Homo sapiens: one gene and its partner. The protein of the gene in region 2 purifies or fractionates together with the protein of the main gene of each other region. This does not show direct contact. Each region holds a gene or a part of one and is shown on either strand. Other genes may lie near its edges.

The links. The genes of interacting proteins can lie anywhere in the genome.
Region 1: the proteins of CYTIP (region 2) and CYTH2 purify together in Homo sapiens (affinity purification with mass spectrometry; 3 studies listed by BioGRID and IntAct, with this or other methods). This does not show direct contact.

What each region holds. Positions count from the first base shown.
Region 1 is NC_000019.10:48,479,369-48,482,814, reverse strand, and holds the end of CYTH2 (cytohesin-2), read right to left. Parts: 3' UTR 501-3,446; downstream 1-500. UniProt on the Homo sapiens protein: Acts as a guanine-nucleotide exchange factor (GEF). Promotes guanine-nucleotide exchange on ARF1, ARF3 and ARF6. Activates ARF factors through replacement of GDP with GTP.
Region 2 is NC_000002.12:157,430,590-157,434,089, forward strand, and holds part of CYTIP (cytohesin-interacting protein), read right to left. Parts: intron 374-3,500; coding exon 271-373; intron 64-270; coding exon 1-63. UniProt on the Homo sapiens protein: By its binding to cytohesin-1 (CYTH1), it modifies activation of ARFs by CYTH1 and its precise function may be to sequester CYTH1 in the cytoplasm.

The DNA.
Region 1 (3,446 bases), on a different chromosome or scaffold from region 2:
GGGAGGAAGGGCTGGGGCCTGGACTTCTGGGTCTGAGGGAGGAGGGGCCGGGGTCCCCAACTCCTGGGTCTGAGGGAAGAAGGGGCTGGGCCTGGACTCCTGGGTCTGAGGGAGGAGTGGTTAGTTATCTAGGGCTGACATAACAAAGTACCTCAAAATTAGTGGCTTAAATCACAAAAACTGAAGGTCTCCCAGTGCTGGAGGTCAGAAGTCTGAGATGAGGGTGTCAGCCCTGGCTGCTCCTGAGGCTGTGAGGGAGGATGAGTCCCCGGTCTCTGGCTTCTGAGGGTGTGCCGGCAGCTTTGGTTTTCCTCGGTTTGTAGAGGCGTCACCCCAATCTCTGCCTTCACCTCCACATGGTGTCATTTCTGTGTGTCTGGGTCTCTGTACAAACTTTTATAAGACACACATCCTATTGGATTAGGGCCCACATGAATGACCTCATCTGAACTAATTATATCTGCAATGACCTTATTTCCTAATCAGATCACATTCTGAGATGCTGGGGGTTAGGATTTTAATATAAAGTTTTTTGTGGGGGTGGGGGAGACACAATTTGATCCGTGCTGAGTCCATTTTGTGTTGCTCTGACAGAAGACCTGAGGCTGGGTCTTTATAAAGGAAGAGGTTGATTTGGCTCAGATTCTGATGGCTGGAAGGTTCAAGACTGGGCAGGTGCACTCACTGAGGACCTCCCTCATCCCTGAGGCTGCTGCTGCTTCTGGGGGAGGGCAGAAGGATGCAGCTGTGTGCACAGAGATCACATGGTGCTGAAGGAAGCAAGGGAGAGAAAACCAAATTCCCAAATTCCCAAGGGTGAGCACTCACTCACCCCTTAAGGCAGGCATTAATCTATCCATGAGGACTCCACCTCCAAGACCACACAGCTCCTTATGAGGCCCCACATCCCAACACCTGCCACACTGGGGCTCGAATCTCAACATGAATTTTAGTGAGGACAAACGATATCCAAACCATTGCCACCCAAAAGAAGTGGGCTGAGGCCTGGCGCGGTGGCTCACACCTGTAATCCCAGCACTTTGGGAGGCTGAGACAGATGGATCGCCTGAGGTCAGGAGTTCGAGACCAGCTTGGCCAATATGGTGAAACCCCGTCTCTACTAAAAATACAAAAATTAGCTGGGTACGGTGGCTCACATCTGTAATCCCAGCTACTCGGGAAGCTGAGGCAGGGGAATCGCTTGCACCTGGGAGGTGGAGGTTGCAGTAAGCCGAGATGGCGCCATTGCACTCCAGTCTAGGGCACAAAGTGAGACTCCCTCTCAAAAACAAAACAAAACAAAACAAAAAACAAAAAAAAAAACCTACAAAAAAAATCAGAAGCGTGCTGGGAGCTTGGGGGTCCTGGGCGAGGAGGGAGCCGGACGCAAAATCCTCAGGTCCTGGGGGAAGATGGACTGTGGGCAATGCTGAAGGTCAGTGTGACGTGATGCAGCCTGGCTGGAATGTTCCACAGGCATCTCCAGCTTAATTTGGTCAAAACGGAATGCCTGATTTCCCCTTAAATACTCCCTTTCGACCACCTCAGTCATGGCACCGTCATTCACCAGCTGCGGCGGCTCTCAGCAAGTCCTTTTGGCTCCTCTTTCAAGACTCCTAGCGTGGCCCAACGTTCTCCACCTCCACAGCCACGCCATCCTGCACCGCACAGCTTCCTCTCACCTCCCCGCTCGCCTCCAAATTATTCTCCCTGAAGCAGCCAGGGGCCCCTCCTGCAACCTCAATCCAAACACGTCAGGCCCCTGCCTCCTGCCCTTGCACGGCTTCCATCTGCTAAGAATCCAGCCAGAGGCCCTCCTGGGGCGGCCCAGGCCCCACGCGACCGGCCGCCTGCCTCTGCCCTCCCCTCCCGCCGCACTCCCCTCTTCGCCACCAGCGGGCTCCGCGCCTCTTCCTGCCTCTGCCTGCCACGGAGCCGGCCGCCCTGCATGCAGTTCATCCGGGGAGGCGGCAGGAAAGGGTGACATAGTGGCGGGACCCGCTGTTTACCCTGGGACCTCATCTCCCACGACCTTCTTGGGTCGATGACTCCGTTTCCCTGGCACCTGTGGGAAAGAGAAGTGGGGAATTCTATTTTCTCATTTGGAACTCCATTTCCCACCAGCCCCCGGGGCCGCGGCGGTCAAAGCCTCCTCTACCCTCCACAAAAGTACGGGATCTGACTAAGAAAAAGAAGACAAACGCCGCCACGGAGTCTCGGGAAACTGCGACGCCCGGAAAAACCTCGGGTCTGGGTCACCGTGGCTTTGGCGCCGCACAGCCTGCCGATAACTGTAGTCCACCTTCCCGCGGAGGGGCGCAGGGTACCCCCACCGCGGGGGCCTTCAGGCCGGCAGGTGCCTGTGGCCAAGGGCGGGACAGGGATCAAAGCCCGAAATTCCGAAGCGCCGCATCCCATCGGAGAGCTCAAAAGCGAACACAGCGGGCAGGAGGGACTACAACTCGCGGCACGCCTCGGGGCCACAGGCGCCTCTCCCACCCGCGTCCCGGTCCCTGCTGGGACTTGTAGTTTGTTAACTAAAGAGCGCCTCAGCTTCAAAGGCGGGCATGGGAGAGTGACATGGGACCTCCCAATCCGCCATCGCACCCTGCTCGGGATCCACGAGCCCTTGTTCTTTGGGGACACCACACATACCCCAACTGGAGGGCAAAAGGTCACAGACCTTAGCCCAGGATTCAGGGGTACCCCACATGCCAAGACTTCACCTTCATAGAGGCGATCCTCGAATTTCTTTGGCTGTCAAGAATCCCAGGAAAGACGTTCAGAACGCAGGTCCTCAGCCCTATCCTTGACACAAAATGTCCTCCAAAGGAGGCTGATCCTTTGAGAACAGACAAGCCTGGCTCTGGCACTGGCCCACAGTCCTGCCCTCTTAGCCCGATCTAAGGCTGCCCAGCCCTTCAGGACATCCCATCAGCAAGGCCCTTGCAGGACATGGGCCACCTCCCCACTCATCCTTCCCTGACCCTCCCTGAGGTGGTCGCATGTTCTTCCAGCTCCAGGTTGTCCTCAAAGCCCTGGCCCAGCTCACAACCTCACCAGCTTCATCTCCTGCCCCTCAAAGACCTCAAGCCCCATGAAAGCAACGATGGGAACTAGCTGATGGCTGTAGCGTAACTGGCTGATGGCTGTCAAGTAACTTCTAGAATGAATGCTAGACCTTGACCCTGAATCCCTGCATTCTAAACTCTGTCCCCGGCCAATTCCAACTCCAGACTCCCACCATATTAACCTTCTCCCTTTACTCCACTCCTGCTGGGCTCGGGGTGAAACCAGAACAGACCCACCGGGACAGCCCAGGCAGCACCCAGAGACAGGCGGGTCCAGGCCCCTGTCCAGGGAAACAGGCTGGCTCCACGGAGCACCTCGACTCTGTCAACCCCAAGAAATGAGGGGGTCAGCAGGCCAAGTGGTTAAATAATTAA
Region 2 (3,500 bases):
CAACGACTTGTTTGTAGGTAAAACCTTCTGTGCTCACACCATTGATATTTGCAAGGACATCACCTGGGAGATGCCAAGAAAAATGAGTGTTATGTTGGTTAGTTAAATAATCCCTCCTGACATGCAAATGAAACAAGCAGCTCCAAGTCTTAAAAACATAAAGGAGCCAAGAAAACTCAAAGCAACAAATACATCCTGACCTTCACTCTCAAAACATTTTATTTTCTTTCCATTTAAATGATTCCTAACATGAGCAAAAATTTAAGTTACCAGCTTGCAGGCCAGCACAGTGAGCTGGGCTGTCCTCCTGTATTTTGCATATCAAAGTGAACATTTCCGAGGAGCAGGCATTCTGATTCTGGGGCCTGTAAGACTGTAAAAATTAAGATGATATATAGTTACTATTTAACAACCTCAACATCTATTTGCCAAAATTTAAAATGATGTCAATTATCATTAAGCAGTATAATAGGTAAGTTCAAAGGACAAAGGATTTCCACTATAAACTAAATCAAGGTATCAATTTTGCAATTCTACCAGACAATCTGTAGCCAACTCCATTCATAAAGACATCTGTCATGAGAAAGAAAGTGAAATGAGAGTGGCTCAAGATTTTATATTTTCAAGCCCAAGATATCACCTGATGCTATCACGATTTATTTTTAAAAATTGAGTTTCTCATTTCCCAATGGGATAAAACAACGATGGCCAAGTGCAATGAGAAAAATCCCTAAGTGGTTCTCCCAAGCTAAAACACTCATTATAGGAGTATGAAATTGTACACATGCAGCAAGGAGACATGCCAACAATGATTATTTTAAATCAGAGTTCTGCACATAATGACAATCTGCCCTGCATTTATTCAAAAGTACTATAATTGACTCAATTACCTTCATTTCTGAGCACCCTCTGGTATGCCTGTCCTGAATCCTCACCGGTTCATTAGTCACCCAACTAAATTAGAAAAAGTTAAGCTTCAACTCTTGCCTCAATTAGGCACAAGTAGTTTGGTGGTGGTGGGTTTTTTTATTTTTAATTATACCAAAACACTGAATAAATGTTTGCTAGATATAGTGTCCCAATGACCTATAACAAATATAATTTTCTTTTTTTCACACATTTAAATTATGAAGTCTAGTTCCACTTAGAAGCAAAATCAGTGTTCTGAGTAGAGTACGTCTTTTAAACATCTGATTCCTAAAATTAAGCTACATTAAAGTAGTACTTCCTTGTGAAAAAATTGATGTCTGATGTTCATTCTTTCTTATTCAATAATCCCTGAGGCATCACAAGTCAGCCACATGCAAGCAACTTCTAGAAACTTGGGTCTGTTCACCTCTAAAGGACTTCTATCTAATCTATAAGGCACTTAGAATCCCCATATCTTAAAGGTAGAAGGGACTTTAAAAGATCATGCACTATGTTCCCATCTATGTCAGAAACTTCATTGACAGCTTTCCTGCCAGGGGTCTTCTCAGTATAGCCTAGACCCTTCTGGAGATGAAAGACTGATCTAGTTCATGTGGTACATGAATAAAATATACAACTGACACTCCTTTGGGAAACCACTGTTCTAACAATTCTCATTAGCAGTGAGACTCTACCCTCCATTCCCAGAGATCAAAGTAAGTACAGTGCAGTAGAAACATGTTGATTTATGTAGCTGGCACCTCCATATATGTTCACATTGGGTGTAAAATATGGTAGTTAGAAATAGAAAAAAACAGAAACCCCAAAGCTACAGAAAGTATTAATTGGATGCTTTTTTCTCTTACCCAGTCTTCTAGCTCCCATTAAGGGATCAGTGACACAATGATCACCTGCATTTCTTAGAGACACAAAGATCTCATTGTCCTTTCTCATGCCCAGTGACATTCATTCTAACACCTGTCATTTGTGGATCTTCTATTGGTAAGGCACATCACTAGGTACATTGCATGTATTATTTCATTTAAAACTCCTAAGGACCCCATAAGGCATTAGGAGGATATGAATTCAGGTGTGCATGAGTCCAAAGTCTGCATTCCTATTGGGCTGCACGATTCTGATAAGCAGCATAAAACTAGCTCCCATGGAGAACCATGGATCTGGTCTCTTCCAAAGTGTCATTCCTCTAGTAGGCCACATCCCAAACATGTACTCACACTGCATGCACAATATGGGTACATGAGGTTCTATCTGATTTTCAAAAAGTTCCCAGAAGCATGTCTCCTATTTGTTAACTGCTGCAAATCTGATGAGTACTAGGGAATAGATTATGGTGTGTATTTGACAATGGAGAGCATATACCAGAGGGAATTTACAGGAGTGTGGGTTCCTGCATCACTGAGATAACACCTACATGCTGCCATTTAGAGGTGCCATTAGTTCATGTTGATCTACAAAAGTTCAGTGGTGTTGTGGCCTGACATAGTTTTGACTCTTGCTCCACGGAGAATAAGTGTTTATGGTATGGGAGAAAAACTTAAGAAAGTAGTGACATTATTATGGCAGTATAAGAAAAATAAAGAAAGGTGAGTAGTCGTTTATCCAGTTTTCAGTAGCCACTGCTGCACATCCTTGAGGATAATTTTCCTTTAAAAAGAAGCAGTGACAAAAAGCAGTGTCTCTACAACAGAATAGGGAGTAGTTCATATGACCGGGGAGTAAGAGGGAGCACTATGCTTCTAAAACCTATAGATTTCACCAGTTACTGTGGTGAATTACAGATTCCTCCAAATTTAAAAGTACAGGAGTTAGGAAAGTAGAAGTGATCCTCTTTTCAAAGTGCCTTCTCTGTCTTCATTGCAGCTAAAGTTCCATTTTGTTTCTTTACTCATAAAACATGTTTTTCTTAGCAGTTTCCTGTTCCTAATCTTAAAATAAACACTGACTTTCCAATTGTGGGGCTGATATCACACCAGAGTTTTCTGAAAGCAGCAGTAAAGCTAAGATCTAAAATCTGATATAGAGTGTAAGAATATGATTATGCAAAACACATCCAAAAGACATGCAAACGTACTATGGAAAAAAAAAACAGAAATGCTTAAGCTACTACTGTTGCACTTAATTGGGTTAGACTTCATTTGACCTACCTCACCCATTTTACAAATGTGCTCATGAAAAAGCAGACAGCTAATAAGCAATGAAATTCTTAGGCAATTATGCTGAAACTTATAAAGACTTAAAAATTTCCTACAGCATGAGGCAATCTGCAAGTAGAGCCAAATGTTCTCAAGTGTTTCAAATAACAATTATAAAGCATTGTCATTAGGAAAAAAAGCTACAAATTGCTCATTATGTACAATATGAACTCTAGTTGCAAAACATACCAGGAGCTATCCATGAATATATGCATTCTATATACACAGATGTATAGTCTTTCGAGTGTCTCTTGAATGCCAAAGTAAATACTTAAAATCTGATACACAGTATAACAATATGATTATACAAAACACATGCAAATATATCAAGTACACATCTGTAAAATGTATTTCACTCTCTTATCTAAGACCTAGCTG